Regions from separate parts of the Homo sapiens genome. Here region 1 is linked to region 2. The links come from fine-mapping of genetic effects on gene expression. A gene starts in region 2. The other region holds a variant in brackets. All regions are shown on one strand. Distances are from middle to middle.

Region 1 (9,617 bases), 27 kb after region 2:
TCTAAATCTTGAAGGCAAGTGTAAAATAGAACCTTATTATTGAAAACTCATTTTTGCCTTTGAAAAGGTGTTTTGTGGTGAACATTCTAGTACATTCAACTTCTCCATATTGATAAGATTTGCTATTTATGTTGCACAAAATGTCACGGATTAAAATAAAATATATTCCAGCTTAAGAATCCCTCTTTCTGTCCAGAAAATCAAGAGTTTTGATGACTACTAATCTATCCATATGTAAATATTTGGGTAGTTTAAAATAGTATTTTAGTCTATTTTAAATGGCTTTGCTTTAGGAGATGCCTAAAGCACATTTCTATTCTGGTGGCTTTGAAAAATCCTAATTGGAAAAATGATGTAATTTTCATCTAAGAGAATAAACTGTGTCTCATCCAAGCAGGAGTCAAAACCCCACGTCCTTTTTTTTTTTTTTTTTAATACATGGAGGCCCCTGAAAGTTAGAATAAGGCAGAAAAACCATGTAAAATTATGATGTTGCATTTTGATAGAAAACGTGTACTTCACTCCAATCCCTGGCCTGGTCATTGGGTTGAGACATTGAGTGGAGTACACTGTGTTTCTACCAAAATTATTTCACAATTTCACTTGTTATTTTTGTAACAATTACCAAAGCTCATGATTCTTACATTGCATAGCCCTAATGAACATTTTCCCATTGTTTTTTCCACCCTCCTATTCCTTGCATGTTTGCAGAAGTTTTAGTGGATGCCAAATGTTGTTCTTGAGCAAGTTTGTTTATTTAGTCATTTTTCCTTTCAAGAGAATCTATTGATACCCACAGTATTTCAAATCATAATGTAGGGCCTGGGATATAGTAGTGAATGAAACAAAGTTCCGACTCTCCTGAAACTTATATTCTGGTAAGGGGAAACATGACATTCACAAACACATAAATAATCATATATGGTATCGTGTCCTATGAAAAATTAGGGTAAGAGGATAGGTATGAAGGAAGATTGGGGCAGTTCAGAAAGACCTCTGTCACAGCTCAGCAGAGACCCAAGGGAATGGGGCAGCCAGACATGCGACTCTCCAGGTTCCAAGTGCTCCAGGCAGAGGGGAAAGCAAGGGCAAAATCCCTGAGGAAAGGGGGTGCTTGGTGAATATGAAGAACTGTCAAGAAGCCAGTGTGCCTGGAACAGAGTGAATAGGAGCAAGACAGAGTAGTAGAAAATGAAGCAAGAGGTAGCCAGGCCAGAGCACTTAGGAACTAACAGGATTTACCTGAATAAGTGGGAACTGGGTGACTTTGAGAAGAGGAAGGTCACGTCTCTTTTCCTTTTAGAAGAATCTCGCAGGCTGGTGTAGGTAGTATACTGTGCAAGGGCGAAGGGGAGGTAGGGGGGCAGCTAGAGGTTACAGTTCAGACAAGAGATCATAGTGGCTTAGGAAGGGTTACTGCAGGGCCATGGTGTATGATGGTACAGGTTGTTCGCTACCCAAAGGCATCTGGCTTTTCTCATCAAGCCAGGGGTTGTGCCAGCCAAAAGGAAAAGCTATCTTTTTCTAATTGGCATCCCAGAGTGGGGGTTTTTCTACAATTCATCTGTCTTTTGCTAAATTGCATGCTGGTGCTAAAAGTATGTACTAGCAATGGTGCTGATGGGTCACAGTAGAGATAAGTGGGAAGTGGTCTTATTAAGGATATATTTGAAGAATAAAGCCAATGGGATTTGCCGATAAAGTAACACATAAACAACTCAATTAATAAATTAATGAATTAAGTTCATCAATATCTGGGACCTCTGTCACTCCTCCTTGTTGCAGGTGGGTTCCCTAGAAGCAAACCCCAAGGAGATTAGCAAGTAGGAAGTTTATGAGAGGGTGCTCCTGGGATCAACACCTGAGGAAGAGAAAGGGAAGAATCAGGACTGGACAGAGGTAGAAATTGTGTGGCAATGCAACCTCAGTGAAGGCCTCAGCCTACTTCATGGATGTTCTAGCTCCGGGATGACACTTTTGTGTTTTTCCAAGTCGGGGAAAGAGGGTTAAACCCTGTGTCTAGTATCCAGAAAAAGGCATGTGATCTTGGATGTGCCAGCTATTTTCACTGAAGGCATTCCCCAGAGAGGGCTGACCAGGGGAGGCTGCTTTCCAGTGGCTGTCCCACCATCTGGAGTAATAAGCCCTTCAGTCCTGAAGAGGGATCTGCAGCACAGCATCTCCACATCCCATGGAGGGACACTCCCTGTCCCTCATCTGTGGCATAGATATTGTCAGGATACTCTTTTCTGCTTGCTCAGATACAGCTTCCAGTAGATTTCCGGGCAGCTACCAACAATCCCATCAAATGGCTCTGCAGTGGAACTCATTTACCTTACACATTTTAGGAAAAAGGTTGCCCATATCCCTACCTTCAGCAAAGTTATCAAGTACAGGACAAAAAGTGTACAGTGAGCAAAAAGTAATTGATTCCAAGCTCTTTCATCTGAAAAGGAGCTCAGGTGATCCTAGGGGCCAGTCATTGGCTGGTATGATCTTACATGTGTTTATTATCTAAGGATAGGATCTTTCAGTTCGGTGATGTAAGTGGGAGATGCAGCTCATTTGGATAATTTAAGAAAATCACATTGTTTATGAGGAAAACATCTCTTAGACACTCTTTCTAGGTGCAATAGGCCTGCCTGCCAGTATGGCCCACCAGTGTGGTGTTGCCATGACAAAAACTCCTCATTGAGTCACTAGATCAGAGAAGCAGACCTCAGTGTGCCACCTTGGGCAGCCCCATGCAGGTCTGAATGTGCTGAGCCATGTGATCTTATACAAGGACTTGTCTACATTTTATTTTCAACATCTTTAAAATGAAGAGAATCCCTAATCTGTGTATCCCATAAAGAGTCCTGTGTGGCTCAAATGAACTCGTCTGAGCTGATACAAATTACAAACTTTAAAGCATGCTACCATCGTGAGCTGGTATAGGACTTATAAAGAGAATCCAGAGAAGAGTTAAGCTTGATGGTTTTGACATCTCAAAAGTATGAGAGACTATAAAAATATTTATTTTGGTTAGCTTGTGAAATAGGCAAAGGGCTATTTTATGAGTATTCTGGGCACAGATGCTACTTCTTAAAAGGCACGATAATCACTCTGCATCTAGAGTAGCCTGTATTTGAGGCACAGCCTGGAGTTGGGGATCAAGTGCAACAGCATTTATTGAGCACCTCCTCTGTGGGGGTAGGGAGCACTGGGCTGGATAGGATTCAATGACAGTGGAGGCAGGGACCTTTTCTTCAAAAGACTAAAAGCCAATAGGGGGCCAGGTACAGTGGCTCATGCCTGTAATCCCAGGACTTTGGGAGGCCATGGTGGGTAGATCACTTGAGGTAGGAGTTTGAGACCAGCCTGGCCAACACAGTGAAACCCCATCTCTACTAAAAATACAACAACAACAACAAATTAGCCGGGCGTGGTGGCAGGCACCTGTAATCCTAGCTACTCGGGAGGCTGAGGCAGGAGAATTGCTTGAACCCGGGAGGCAGAGGTTGCAGTGAGATCGCACCACTGCATTCCAGCCTGGTTGACAGAGTGAGACTCCCTCCATCACAAAAAAAAAAAAAAAAAAAGGCAATAGGGAACAGGAAACAAACATCTAAATTCCAGGACAAATGTGATATGTGCAACAGGACAGATACAAGCATGTCTCCAGGTCCAAAGAACGGAAGAGTTTTATTAGGGGACAGAGGACAGCAGAAAAGTTTTCTTAAAGAGGTAGACATTACAATGCTGTAATGAATGGGTATGATTTAAAAGTTAGGTAAAGCAAGGCAGATATAAGGCAAAGCCTCAAAAATAGGTAACAAAATTTATTCCAAT[G/A]AAAGAATGGTTCAATGTGATTGCAGCAAACAACAGTGTGGAAGAATTTGCTATTGCTTGGAAGGGGCAGAACCCGGTAGAAGGATTGTGTGTGCACAAGAGAGGAATAAGCTGAGGAAACCCGAGATTCAGCCTTGGCTTATGAATCCCCTGGACAGTACCTTCTCTTTCTGTCACAGATTTTTCATCTCATGTGTGCCATTTCAGTTGCATGCACACCAAAAGAGTTATTATTCTTGTTGTTCCTGTTTTGTTTTTCTGTTAACATAGTTATTACTTTCCTGGTCAAGTGTAAAGAGCCACATGATTATTAATAGTAATTATATTTATTATAGCCACAGGTATTTTAAGTGTTTCTCAAATTATAGCACAACTTTCTTATGCAGCTGTTATCTCCACCTGCTTTGTTGGCTAACGTAATGTTAACATAAGCCTCAGGAGCCTCAAAGTTTTTGTGTATCAAACAGCCAAGGCTTGTCATTGTAAACACTTTATAGACGATAGGGTCAAAAGCAAATTTTTAAATATGCATAGTCTTTGGATAATTTATTTAGAATAGGATACCTGATAAGTTTTAACATTGAAAGCTACTTTGTTCCTTAATGGCTAGTAGAGGCTAAAAATAGTCCAAAGTTTGTTTCAAAATAGAAAAGGGAAAAGGTTCCAACTCCTGAGATGGAGAACTTTTTGAAGATGATTGTCAATATTTAGCATTGGTCCCTATCCACACTTTAGCACCTGGGAGGGAATGGCTTTGCTTTCTGGAATTTCTTGCTCCTGAAGAGTTACAGGAAGAGTTGGAGAAGAATTTCAGCCAGAAACATTTGTTCTTTTGGTTGTTCTCGCCTTGTTTCCTAGGACATCGTTTTCATGTCAGCATGATCTTGGCTGAAGAAGAATTTATTCCTCTTGACATATTCCTCAACTAAGAATAACAGTCTCAATGTGTCTTTTTGCAACCCTGCCTGAAACTGCTCCAAGATCCCACTCAGGGGGAGGTGTTTGCAAAAGGGATGAGCTGAACTTTGGAAATAGCGTAGGGTGAGTGAGGTTGTATTTTCACTGTGCATTGTTAGAAACCAACATACTATGTGGGAGATTCACTAATACCTAAATCCTTCCTTGGCCAGTAACTCTGTGATTTCTTGAGCTTCCTAAGAAATATCCAGGCACAAAATGGGCATGGGCCTGACTGCTCCTTGGGAGGAGAAAAAGCAAGGTCTATCTTTATCCTATGGAAGACTGGTCCTGGACCTTTTCACTCCAGGCATGTGGAAAGAGAAAGAGAAAAAGGCTAACTCCATGTGGCCTTATAGACTTTTTAGCTCCACTGCTAAGAAAAGAAAATTTGGCTCAGTCCTTATCAACAGTTTGAGGAATCACCCTCTTTTTTGGAGAGCGGAGTTTCCTTATCTTAATCTGAGCCTATTGTTTTAAAGAAGTAAGGTAAAAGGTAGGGAGTTTGAGCCATCAGCTCTACAAAACCCCACTCACTGCAATGTAGTATAAATATCTGTAGGTGTTGAGCAACATCCAGAGATTTGCATCATTGAATATGCATGGCTAAGCACATAGTAGGTGTTCAGTAACTTCCTACTAATTGAATGTTTGATTGATTAGAGAGACAAGAAGATCTTATAACAATATATTTCATCTATGATATAGTCTTGTGGCCTGCAAGTTGAGTACTGAATTATATTCAAACTTCAGTCTATTTTGGGTCCATCTTTATAGGTATTGATTTGTCATAGATCCTTGCCTACTGTACTTACTGTCTTATCCCATTTCTTATTTGCCTATTTTCCTACATATATTCTATAGCAGAATATATTTTTCTGCCATTTCTACAGTCAATTTTTTCCTCCCTCCTTTTTAAGGTAAATATTCTGAGATATAAATATATAACATCACTAAAAAGTATTTCGATAAATAGTGTTGCTATTTGCAAGGCCTTCAAAAAATCATGATCAATTAAATATTTGCATATCAATGGTCATTTATTTATACTAACCTTTTAATGCCAAATATCCACCGTCCAGAACTCTATAAACAGGAAATGAAAAAGGACCTAGTGGAATTCCTCCACAGACAGTTTTCAGAAGGTCAGAATGAGAGGCCTTTTTGGTACTGGTTTTGATAGAGTTAACTTGGATTGTGTTGGGTTAATAGTGTGTGCTTTACCATATGTTTTAAGTATCTATTCCTTGTAAGGAAGACCAACCGTGAGATGAAGGAAAACTCGAGAGTAGTACTTGATTTACGTAAGATGTCATAGTTTCCTTTCACAAATCAGAAAATTCCCTGATTGAAGAGTCTGTGCTACAGCCCAGGGGTTCCAGAATTCAGAATTTACTCTATTTTTTTTCCATGCAAGTAGAAATAATTAGCTAAGGAACCAAGCATGAATCATAAGTCTAGGGTTTTGGTGAAAATATTTTTATGATCTTCTAATTTCGTAGGATTGAAATGACTGCTTATTTAACTTCTCTGAGCTGAATTGTCATATGCCTTACTTATTTCCCTGGATTGTGGTGAGGTTAATGAAGGCGGTGGAGACACAAAGTGTTTTGTGAACCTTAATATTCTATACATACGTGAGGTGTTATTTTTATTCTTATCAGTAAGATAAAGCCAAAGAAAGAGTTTGCATCATACAGCCTTTGGGTAATTTTTTACTTCTGCAGTGGTTGAAAGCATTTCCATTTGGGGAGTTGATGAGAAAGAGTATCAACAGCCAGCAATTCTGGAGAGAATGCACACAGACAATATTTAAAAAAAATTAATAAGTTGGGGGGCAGAGGGAGAGCACGTGAGCTTGGAGAATATTACTTATGAATAGATGAACAAAGGCTGAAGGAAGGGACCAAAAATGAAATTGGCGTTTCTCTTTAATTTACCTAAAAGTTTCTGGAAGCATATTACAAGTACATTACAAAATACAATATGAAGGAGGTAACTTGAGAGGCTGAATTTTAAAATTCAAATGTAAAATGTTTAAAAGAGCCCTCGTTTAGACTATTTGAGGTACTGCTCAGTATTAAAACCTTATCGAGTTTATTAAAGATCAGCTGTCAATTAAGTAGATGTTATCAATATGACTGACAATAATAATTTCAGATTTATTTATTATTAGAAAGTCTTTAGTGTTTTGGTAATTTGGGGAAGGTAGAAGATACTGACCCTCACCTAGTTTATTTTGTTTTAAATTCTGATGTAAAGTACAATGTATCATGTTTTCCTGACCATCAGTGTCACCTCAGCATAACCCGGGAGGTGCTCAAATAAATGTGGTTCACCATGATCACCAGTCCCACTGTGGGGTGACTGATCTGCCTAAAGCCCAAGTTTCCAATGAGTACATTCCTGAGTCTGGCTGAGGCTTCTTTCCTCAAGGTAAGAACTCAAGAATTCATCCTGAATTCTAGTCCTTTCCAACATAGATTACAAATGCTCTTAATTTTAGAATGGTGATACTGTATCTAATAGAATAATAGTAGTAGCTTTATACTTATCAATGTTTTCTATATACCAGCCATAATTCATTGAATCCTCACAACAAATCTATGAGCTGGACATTGGTATTATTATTATCCCCACCGATAGATGAGGAAATGGTGGCACGGTGAAAAAAGTTAAGTAACTTGCCCAGGCTATATTGAGTTGAATTTGAATCTAGGGAGTGTGGATTCTTCACCATGAGACTGTATTGTCTCTTTGAGCTAAATAATTGTGTCTATCTCTGCCATTTAAGAAAAGAAAAGGTTAAGACAAAAAAAAGTACACTAAAAATTAAAGGCAAAAAAAGCAAATTTTTTTTAAAAAAAGATGAAAACACATTTTCATTCTATTTTTTTTTCTTATTTGGAGACAGAGTCTCGCTCTGTCCACTGGAGTGCAGTGGTGCAATCTCGGCTCACTGCAACCTCCGCCTGCCAGGTTCAAGCGATTCTCCTGCTTCAGCCTCCCGAGTAGCTGGGATTACAGGCATGTGCCACCACACCAGCTAATTTTTGTATTTTTAGTAGAGATGGAGTTTCACCATGTTGGCCAGGCTAGTCGCAAATTCCTGACCTCAAGTGATCCCCCACCTTGGCCTCCCAAAGTGCTGGGATTACAGGTGTGAGCCACTGAATCCAGCCTATTATTTCTATTTAAGATGCAACAGAGATTTGTGTAAGGAAATGACAAATAGGCAGTGCAAGTAAAGCTTACATATCTGCAAATGTCTTGCCAAGCTTAAATATCTGAAAATACGTGGTTTAAAAGGAAGAAGGCTTTCACTTCTGATAAGCCAAGTTTGTTTTAATTTGTGGTACTTGTACATCTTGTACCTGAAGAGCACTGAATATTTATAATAAAGGTTCCTAGTTGTTTTAAAACCAAAACAAAAATAAGAGCTGGTGTAGGGGCTGATTCATCCCAAGAGGAAATTCTTGTGGAGTGGACTCTCACTTTATCTTGTCCAGATTCCTGAATGGTCACTTCAAATGTCAATGTGATCTCTGCAGCTTGGATACCTCTCCTTAAGCTACTAAAGGGTCTCATGAACTCTGGGTTTTGGCCGAGGACATTGAAAAGACTAGTTGGAAAAAACTACCATTCTGCAGTGATTCATAGGCAGTATGCTAGCAGCTTTCAAATAATGTGAATTATATACAGGATCCTAGCAATTTTCAAATAGTGATCAAGTAAAAGTTGTTGATGGTTCTGGTATAAACCATGAATCTCATCTCACCAAGACGAGTGCTGGGAAGGAAGGGGTTAGAGTTTCTCTCCTGGCCTGGCCACAAGCCCCTTCTCTCATCATTCCAGTCCTGATGGTGTCTTATCCATGTTTGTCTCTTCTACATCTTACATTGGTCTTAACAGTGCCTGTGATTACTTCAACATGTAAACAGCCAAAGAGAACTCTGTCTGCAGCTGTTCAAAGCTCTGTCCTCCAGCCATGTTTCTTAAACTCTTGGGGTCATGAGCCCTTTTGAGAATCTGATGAAAGCCATGGATTCTCTCCCCAGAAAAACAGACATGTAATAGTTTGTGTATGATGTCATGAACCTCTGGAATCAAATCCTCTACCCCAGGGTAAGAACCCTGCCCTTAATAGCTTTAAATGAAAGGATGCTGTTTGACATCCAGGCTCCTTCTAACTCATGCTTAGCCATTCCTAAGTGTGGCCCTTATCCTCATGGTCTCAGGCAGTGGCAAATTCTCCATCTATTATGAATGTATTTCAGGCAAGAAGATGGAAAGTAAAGATAATTTTTAAGGGCATTTCCTACAAGATGCACTTAAAACTTATGCAACTTTTAAGGTTCCATGGGCATGTGACTGCTGCAGTGAAAAGCAGACAGTTAAACCATTTTGAAATTCTTAAGAGATGTATGTTTGAGTCTGTTCTGTAACTGAAATCCAAGGGGACAATGGGGCATGTGCAAACAAAGTGGGCAATACCCTGAGGGTAAGTGGCTCTCTCACCTGGATGCCTCACCTGTCCCAGTGTGCAGAGGCTGCAGTACCCTTAAAGGTCACTGTCTGCAGGGGGTTGGGACAGCAAGACGGTAGGCAGAGGAGATGCCTGGCTTGCTTTCCCAGCCGCCACCAAGGCACTGAATACAGAGCTGGCATGTGGCAGGATGGGGAACCCAGAAGAAAACCCCAGAGGCTGTGTTTCACTGAGTCGCCAAAGTGAGGGACTCCTCTTGCCTGACAAGTGTCTGTGCGCTTGAGGGAGCAACATAACATGGCAAATAAAAATCATCATGACAGGTCAAGAGAGAGATCCTGGA
Region 2 (9,617 bases):
GAATGCAATAGAATGGAATGGAATCAACTCGAGAGGAATGGAATGGAATGGAATGGAATGGAATGGAATGGAATGGAATGGAATGGAATGGAATGGAGTGGAAAGGAATGGAATGCATTTAAACTGAATGGATCCGAAAAGAATGGATTGGAATGGAATGGAATGAAGTGGCCTTGAATGCAATAGAATGGAATGGAATCAACATGAGTGGATTGGAATGGAAAGGAATGGAATGGAATGCAACGGAATGGAATGGAATGGAATGGAATGGAATGGCATCTGAAAATCAGGAGTTGTTATATACATATCTGAATATTGGGCTTCTTTTGAAACATGAGCAGTTGGGGTAGAGATGGTTTCTGTAATGCCCTTTAGTTGGACTTACTTACTCCAGTTAACCACAGTCTCCATCCCTCCCTATTTCTTCCGTGTTACCAGATCACTCCATTCATTTACGTGACTTCCTTGGCCTCTAGACTTTTTATATTTGCAGCCTTAATTCTATCTCATCCACATATTTTATTGAAATTATTGTCTCATGGGTCAGTCTCCTGTCTCAGCAGCAGAGGATGTGTCTTCTTGACCCCTGGATTTCCAGCCCCTAGCATAGTGTCTGGCTCACAGTAGGTGCTCAGGAAATGTTTGCTGAGCTTATCATGGCATGACACTGCGTGAGACTAACAAGGAGAGAAAGAAAACAGAAGGGAAAGTGGGCAGTAAAGACAGACTCTGAGATTGGCTAACCTCTGTAGTGCAGTCAAAGGTGCAATCATAAATGCTGGCTTTCTTGCTTTCTTCCCACAGATTTGCTCACACCCCCCAATGCCTCACCTGGCTATGTGGGAAGACACTGGATAGAGAGGAGCAGCAATGCTTCATCTTCCTCACCTTGACCCAGAAAATTAGAAGCAAGAACTTGGTGATCTCCAGGCTAGAAGTGGTACAACAAGGAGCAGAGCCCCTGGTGAAAGGTACCTGGAGGGCGCAAGGAACAGATTGGCAAAGAGCAGAGAGGATGGGCAGGCTCTGTGAGAGGTGAGCATCATACAGGAACCCACAGAGAGAGCAGGGCATAGTGTCTGTGTGTGGTGTAGGCAGCCCTCATTAGGAGAGACAGGCCTGTGTAAGGAGGAAGCATTTAGGGGCAGCATAGTGGATAGCCAGGAGAAGTGGGCATCTGGGATCAAATCCTTGCTGCATGCTGGCTGGACGTGTGACTTTGAGCAGGTTAATTGACCCCCTCTGGTCCTGTCTCCTAGTCTATAAAATGGGGACAATAATGATATTCACCTCATAGGGATATTGCATGGATTAAATGAGATAATGCATGTTAAGTGCCTGGCATGTGTTTACTTAATGCACTCTATATTAGTTTTCTATGGTTGCCAGAACAAATTACTACAAACCGGGTGGCTTAAAAGAACAGAAAGCTATTCACTCACAGTTTCAGAGGCCAGAAGCCCCAAATCAAGGTGTCTGCAGAATACAGTCTTCTGGGGCTCTAGGGGAGAATTTGTTATTCCTTGGCTTGGGGCTGCATCACTCCAATCTCTTTACATGCCATCTCCATCTTTACGTGACCATTTCCTACATGTGTCTGTGCCTTTTCTTCTGACTCTTATAAGGATACTTGCCATTGATTTAGGGCCCACCTGGTAATACAGGATGATCTCATCCCAAGATCCCTAACTTAATTAAATTAGCAAAGTCCCTTTTTCCAAATGAGGTCACATTTGCAGATTCTGGGATACGGATGTATCTTTTGAGCCACCATTCAACCTATTACAATACCTAAGTACTGAGTGCTTTCTGTAAGCCAGAACTTGATATGTGTTATTTGATCAGTTGCTTAAGCTAAATCTTGGAGAATAGCATTCTGGGTTCCTTGGGACCTGATCCTGTTTTCCCAAGTAATAAGAGGGTACCATGTGGGTGCTATGATTAGTGACCAAAGGAAGTTGGTTGACGTAGTTTCTAGATTCTCTGGCTTCCCTCCTCAGTCTTTTTCCCTGCATCCTGACTTAGGCCACATACAATATTTTTTCCTTTCTCTGCAAAACGTCTGTGGTAGGCATTTTTATGCTGTCCAGATCCCCCTTCAAGAAATGACTTTTAGTCCCAGCGGCTTGGAGTATTGTCATCGGCCTTCAACTTCTGATCCTCCCCAGTGCAGAGAGCTGCCTCACTGGAGATCACTTCTGTCCCAGCATAGGCCACAACCAGTGACAGATGGAGACAGCAGTACAAATGCCCTTTCATTTCAGCCTAACATGAGACAAGTTAGATAGGCCATTTTAACTCCATAGTTCCTTGGGGGATTGAAAGAAGCTTTGTGGGATTTGCATTGCAACTCCAATTCTCCCTCCACCCTTTCCTGCTTCCTCTCCCTCCCTTCCATGGCACTGATCCCAAGGTACTCCTGATTAAACACCCTGCACATTAAACTTCAAATCAGAGTCTGCTTCCCAGACATTCTAACTTGTGCCAATGTCTAAGGATCATATATTCTTGGGATCAAACAATTATATGCAAAATAGAAAATTTGGTCTGAGTTTGTACTTATGTATGATTCTGTTCCCATAGGTGGCAATACACAATGTCACGTTAAGGTTGTAAATCATATTTTAAATTTTGGAAGGATCTCTTTAGGGCTTTGAAGTTTTTCATTTTCCTATGACTTAGAACATACGACATGAATCTAAGGCAATTCTAAAACTTTGAAATACTCCTTAAGTATCTGGAAAAAGGAGCACCAGTTTGATTGTTGCTGAAAACTTCTTTAGTTGAAAATAATGTTTTGAGGTTTCGACTGAATGTATAACTGTCTTTGAATTTTTAGTTAAGTAGTGTGATGAAATTCATCAGATATTTAGCACCATCTGTGATCAAGAAGTCAAAAAAAAAAAGAATATAAGACCCAAGTGAGAGAAGTCCTGTACTGGTTGAGAAAATAGGCTTTTGGAATAAAGCAGATCTGGGTTTGAGTTTTGTCTCTACTGTCCACAGTCACTGAACTCTGTGCCTCAGTTTCCCCATCTATTAAATGGGGATAATGAACATATTTATCCTGTAGAGATTTTGTGAAGCTTAAATGAGATTATCTACATAAAACATTTATAATGGTAAACACAATAAATGTTATTATTAGCTACTACCTGAGGCAAAGCATATAAATAAAAAAAGATACATATACACCAAATAGCACACACTAATGAATAAATTTTTGACCATTTGAATCATTGTTTACAGAAAACACATGAAAATTTGTTCCTACCTTTAAAAAAGGATTCCAGATATATTTTCCTTATTAGGGAGAAGGTTACTAATTTTCTAATACTGAAAGTGACATCTGAGTGAAGACCTCATTAGGCGGTGAGTTGTGTGGCTCTTTGTGGAAGAGCATTTTGAGCAGAAAGAACAGCCAGTGCAAAATTCTGAAAGGATAGCTGGACTGTGTTTGAGGATCAGCCAAGAGGTCTGTGTGGCTAGAGAAGAGTAAGCAGGGTGATTGAAGTCAGAGAAATAAGAGGGTGGGGCTGGGTGCAGTGGCTCACGCCTGTAATCGCAGCACTTCGGGAGTCCGAGGCAGGTGGATCATGATGTCAAGAGATTGAAACCATCCTGGCCAACATGGTGAAACCCTGTCTCTACTAAAAATACAAAAATTAGCTGGGCGTGGTGTCACACGCCTGTAATCCCAGCTACTTGGGAGGCTGAGGCAGGAGAATTGCTTGAACCTGGGAGGTGGACTTTGCAGTGAACAGAGATCGCACTCCAGCCTGGTGACAGGGTGGGATTCTGTCTCAAAAAAAGAAAAAGAAGGAAAGCAAGAAAAGAAAGAAAAGGGTGGAGCAGGTCCTATAGGGCCTGGTTGGTCATCGTGAAGACTTTGGACTTTACTAAATGACTTGGGAACTTGTTGGGTCTTGAGCTAAGGAGTGACATGGCCCAATTTCTGTATTAAAAGGATAACCCTGACTAGTGTGTTCAGAATAGAGTAGGGTGGGCAGGGCAGAAAATGAAGGGAGACCGTGGTCAGGAGGCCACTGCGGTATCCCAGGTTGATGGCAAGGGCAGCTTGGACCAACCAAGGCATCACCACCATGGGCACAGAGCATGGTCAGCATCTGCTGTGTTTTGAATCCTGAGCTGATAGAAATTGGCAATGTCTGACAGGAACGGATGAGCTGAAGATGCCTCCAAGTTTTCTCTCCTGAACAACTGGAGGAAAATAGTTCTTTTACTGAGATGAGGAAGACACAGGGGACGGGCAGGTTTGGCAAGAAATATGCAGCCTTCATGTTGGGACCTGTTAAGTATGAAATAGCTCTGAAGCATCCGATTGGAAATGTTGAGGTGGCAATGAGATCGAAGAGTCTGGCGTTAGTGAGTAGTCTGGGTTAGAAATATAAATGTGGGAGTTATCAGGCTATCATTGGTATCTAAAACTATGAGACTTGAGGACAGCATTGAGGGGCTGGATAGAGAAAGAAACAGGAGTGACAGGGAAGAACTTGGAGGCACTCTCATGTTAAGGGGTTACAGAGGTAACGCAAAGAGGCCGAGAAGCGGCGGCCAATGAAAGACCAGGAAACCCAGCGGTCTGGAAGCCAGGTGAAGGCATGGGAGCAGGTTGAACTGATGGCTCAACTGGAGTTTGTTAGGCCAGTGGTCCTCAAAGTATTGTTCCAAACCCGCTGCGGCAGCAGCAGCCTCTGGAAACTTATTAGGGACGTGCAGCCTCTCAGGCCCACTCCAGAGCTACTGGATCGGAAACGGAGGGTGAGGCCCTTCAGCAGATTCTGATGCACCCTCAGGTTTTAAAACCACTGCCCTCCTCACAAAATTGCCTGCACAAAATTATAAATGGGAGAAAGGAGGAGGAGGAGGAGGAAGAGGAGGGGAGGAAGAAGAACTCTTTACAAGAAAAGAATATTGTTGGAGACCCACTTAGTGCCCAAAGCAAACAGCTTCCTCAGAAGTAACTCCCTCCCCAACAACCCCCTCCCAGTGTAAAGCCTCCCATTAATCAATCTATCATGGCTCTTTGGAGAGAAGGAATGCCCCCATTTCACCGGACGGAGGGAATGCTGAGCACCAGGCATGCCAGACATTCCACCGGCTAAAAAAAGTGGGGGTGGTATTCCAGGGTTAGCATTGCTGGACCGTAAACGCTGAAACTCCTTAGATATAAAGCTTATTCCACCCAACCGTTTCCAAATTTTCCTCCAGGCTGTCCTTGGAGAATTCCACCCTCTTTCATTCTGGGGAGAAGAAGTTAAAATTAGGGCCAGCCCTGCGGGACTGACATGCCAGATGCAGGGAAGCTGTCCCCAGAAATAAGCGAGTTCCCACCGCGGCTGGGCGGGGCGGGAGCCTCGGGTCCCAACCCAGCGGAGGGACTCCTGGAAGGCCTGCCCCTTCCAAGTGTCTGCAAGGGCTCTGGTCCCAAGCTTTAAAATCCTGAGCGAAGGCACTGCGGGCCGACCTCTCCTCTCCCAGCCAGTCGTGGCTGGCCTTTCAAAGTGTGCAGTTGTCTCCTCCCTGTCCAGCCCCATCGTCGCCCAGGACCAGCTGGGCCGCGGTCTGACCTGAGGCTGCTGCTCAGCGCCGGGGCGCTGGCGCTCTCCATTCGAGCACCTTCCAGCATACCGCTCGGCTCCGGGAGCCGCTCTGCAAAGTTGGGCAGCTCAGAGCGCAAGCTTTGCCTCTCGACTTCTCCCTCCTTGGGTCCCCGGCGCCCCCGCCTCCCACGATCCCTTTCACTAGGAGCAGCCAGTCCCAGCGGGCTGGCAACTTGCACCCCTTCCTAGTCATCCTCCCTGAAACGCGACCATGCTGTTAAGGGGCGTCCTCCTGGCGTTGCAAGGTAAGGCCTGGACCCCGGGACAACCCCGGGGGCGCTCTGACGACTCGCCCCCGCTCCTGCTGCCCCCGGGGGTCCGGCTCACCGTGCTGGGCTGGGCCATCCGAGGGCGCCTCCTGATCCTCCGCAGCCGCTAACTCCCTCCCCTGGCCAAGCCTGGGGTGGGGGTGGGGGTGGGCGTGGGGTCGCTCAGTGGAGGCGCCCGGGGATGCTGGGGGACAGGTACTGCATCCCTCTCCCGCCCCCTCCCGCTCGTCTTTCCCCCACTTTCACCAGGTAGTCCCCCTGGGGCTCCCCGAGTTGGTGCAAAGGCTCCTGGGTGGAGCTCGAACTGAAACTCGCTTTGTGCCCGCAGCCCTGCAGCTCGCCGGTGCCCTCGACCTGCCCGCTGGGTCCTGTGCCTTTGAAGAGAGCACTTGCGGCTTTGACTCCGTGTTGGCCTCTCTGCCGTGGATTTTAAATGAGGAAGGTAAGGAGGCTCGGTGGAGAGGGGCGCGAAGTGAACTTTCTTCCTTGATGGCTTGCTTTTTTTTCCCACATGGGTAATGTTATCTTGGAGTTAATTCTCCGCGGCAAGAAAAGTGTGAGTCATGGATCCTCCTTCAAGCCCTCAGCTGTGCTGCAAGGGATGGCCGAGGCAGGAACGGGGCGGGCGGGAGGCCGCCCTTTGTTTACCTGGCCTATGGGTAGAAGCTTAAAATTTGCGTCTCACCCCAGCACTCCTTAATGGAAGGGAGAAACGGAGCACAGCTAATGATTGTTCTCCGCTGTGGGCCTCTGCAGGCACACCAGCTGTGTGCCTCTGCAGGCCAGCAACCTTTCTGGTCCTCAGGAGACATGTCTGTGAGTTGGGAAAAGTTGCATGGGACTAGTTCTCCTTCAGCTTTGCAGAAATGGTTCCACAATTCTGTGATGGGACGTCAGTGCTAAGACATCACGTCTGCCTTGACCCTGACAGTGTTTTTTGCTGCATGATTTCATCCTCACACTCCTGTTTGTAATCCTGCCCTGGACAAAAGAAACCATGTACACTGCCAAATGCCTGGGGTCCCTGTCTCACTGGTGGTCATTGTCTTACTACTCTATACTGTTTGGGTCCCAAGGACAAAGTTTAAATGTGGGGTCTTCTGAAGTGTCATCTTGCCTTTATATAGTTTTTTTTGTTTTTTGTTTTAAAGTGTGGTTCTCAGTACCCAATGGCAGGCGGCACTGGGTGTCCCTTCTTTCCTTTCTCTCTCTTTTGTCACCACCAGTGAAGCCTGATGCCCACAGACTATTTGGATTGGAAAATAGCCTTCTTTAAAAAACATGGTACCCTAGATGAAACCAGCTCACCTCCTTCCCCACTCAATTGTCCTCAGGCCGCAGATCCTCCCACCTCGCTCCCTGGGGGAGGATGGAGCCCGGAACCCCTGGTTAGATGTATGAACTGTCACCACAGCTCACTCTGCCCCAGGCTTCTACTCAGGGTTCTGCATACATTAGCTTCTCTGACCCTCACAGGTAGGTGATGTTGGACCCGTTTTACAGAGGAAGGAATCTCAGCCATAGAATATTCAAATGGCTAGTCCATATCACAGTGTCACTGAGTGGCTAACTCTGAGTGTCTAGTTAGGAAGAAACAGGAAGGAACTGGTTCAGTAGTAATCTCCATCTTTATCCAACAATTGCCAAGTCTTGACTACTACAGTCTACTTAGGGGTGGCTGGGAAAAAGCAATTCTTGATTTATTATTCGAGGGATTCCTATCTTGCTGATGGCTTTAGGAAAGTCTCTGTAATCTTGCCACTCACCCTTTCCCTATACTGGCTGTATGGAAGCATTGCGGGAGATGGCCTTAGAAATGCCACGAGACTGGCTTTGGAGAGCACACTCCTCCAGCACGGGGCTTCTCAAACCTCAGCTGCATCAGAATCACCTGGTGGGCTTGTAAGACACAGATTGCTGGGCCCCACTTCCTGAGTGTCTGATTCAGGGGGCCTGAGAATTTCTAACAAGTTCCCAGGTGATGCTGATGATGCTGGTCTCGGGACTACACTTTGAGAACTGCCGACTTCCACAGTCTGTGTACACACACACACAACCTGTGCTGTTGTTGGCTCTGAGTAGGTCTGGCACTAGGGTGAAGGAGCTACTTGCAGGACCCGAGAGTGAACAGCTACTTAAGTCTTGTTCCCTAAGCACTTGGCTTGCCTCATCCTAGTGCTGGCCCTGAGAAAAGGAAATCAACATCATTCCTTAAGCCAGGAGCCTTAGTTAGTCTCTGAGTTCCTGCCTCCGGCCCTCTGTCAGGATGGGGGCCCCCTCACAGCCTGCCTCTGGTCAGTGGGCATGCCACAGCCTGCTGAACACAACTGCCTCCCAGACCCACAGGAAGTCTCTCTGCTGAGTTGGCACCTCTGCCCCAGGACAGCAGTTAAACCATCCCCCTTCAGGGAAAACAGGAAGATGCTTATAGAAAAAGGTGATTACAGTTTAATAGTATAACGAAGGCACTGTGGCTTTGCTTTCTGCATTCTTTCTAACAACCACTGCTTTCTGGCTCAGGACTGGGACTACTGGGTTGGCTGGCGGAAGTTAATTCATTCTCCTCTGAGCACTCCAGGGTGGAGCAGGCAGGTTAGGCTCCAGTTGTTCCAGCTTCAGTTTGTCAAAGGCCAGAACTTGGACGTAACAGTGTACTGCAGGCTCCAGGGCAGTGAGGTAGGTGTGTGGCAGTTGCTGTGGTTGCCTAAGAAGACATCGCTAAGAATTTCCCTTATAAGCCCATTTCTAGGTTGGTAAATTAAAGATAATAAAATTCTTCCAGGCTGAAATTTGGCAAGCTGTTCACAAGCTTCTCTGCAAATGCACTTCTTCCTGCAGAAACCCTTTGAAACTGGTTCCATGGTTCCATTCACCTTCATGTACTGGATCCACCATGGAAAGTAGTGGGTTTCAGAGACTTTTGCCCACATGCACTTCTTTTTTTTTTTTTCTTTAAGTTCTGGGATACATGTGCAGAATGTGCAGGTTTGTTACACAGGTATAAATGTGAATGGTGGTTTGCTGCACCTATCATCCCGTCATCTAGGTTTTAAGCCCCGCATGCTTTAGGTATTTGTCCTAATACTCTCCCTCCCCTTGCGCCCCACCCCCAACAGGCCCCGGTGTGTGAAGTTCCCCTCCTTGTGTCCGTGTGTTCTCATTGTTCAACTCCCACTTATGAGTGAGAACATGAGGTGTTTGGTTTTCTGTTCCTGTGTTAGTTTGCTGAGAATGATGGCTTCCAGCTTCATCCATGTCCCTGCAAAGGACATAAACTCACTCTTTGGTATTGCTGCATAGTATTCCATGCTGTATATGTGCTACATTTTCTTTATCCAGTCTATCACTGATGGGCATTTGGGTTGGTTCCATGTCTTTGCTATTGTAAATAGTGCTGCAATAAACATATGTGCCAGATGCACTTCTTATATGTCCATGGTCCGTAGGTTAATTTATTGTGGAGAGAACAATGCAAAAGGCCAGAGAAGGAAGGTAAGTTGGGACACAAATCTGCGAACTGGGGTTTCATCACAGGAGAATCAAATCTGGAGGTAGTTGGAAAAGTCTCCTTGTCTCTAAATATCCCCTTTGCTGCCTGAAATAGTTTCTGAGGTTCATGCCTTTGATTTACAGTATTAAGTCCCTAGATGTCCCTGATTACAGTTCGAGTGTCTCTATTTCATGGCCACTTTAAAATATGCTTTATCTCCACTGGACACAGAAT

Alleles and levels. Positions count from the first base shown, and alleles are read on the strand shown. Sizes are in standard deviations (SD) of each study's normalised expression.
As copies of G replace A in region 1, the expression in prefrontal cortex of the gene that starts at base 5,486 in region 2 goes up (small effect, 0.36 SD a copy in BrainSeq).

Evidence for each region. PIP is the estimated chance that this variant, and not a neighbour inherited with it, causes the effect.
Region 1: its variant is the best candidate, but not a certain one, in a credible set for the expression of MAMDC2 in prefrontal cortex (BrainSeq, PIP 0.61).

The regions. Positions count from the first base shown.
Region 1 is chr9:70,065,164-70,074,780 of GRCh38, forward strand. All of the region lies in intron 2 of MAMDC2 (MAM domain containing 2), which reads left to right. Among named protein-coding and RNA genes, the nearest start is that of MAMDC2, 26 kb to the left of the region's middle. The variant G/A (reference allele first, on the strand shown) is at 3,832.
Region 2 is chr9:70,038,363-70,047,979 of GRCh38, forward strand. MAMDC2 (MAM domain containing 2) reads left to right here and starts at 5,486. Exons shown (of 14, transcript NM_153267.5): 1 at 5,486-5,869; 2 at 6,222-6,335. The coding sequence starts at 5,836. It overlaps LOC124902179 (a long non-coding RNA gene), which reads right to left and starts at 5,679. Exons shown (of 2, transcript XR_007061571.1): 1 at 5,592-5,679. RefSeq lists an enhancer at 1-465 and a silencer at 5,471-5,765.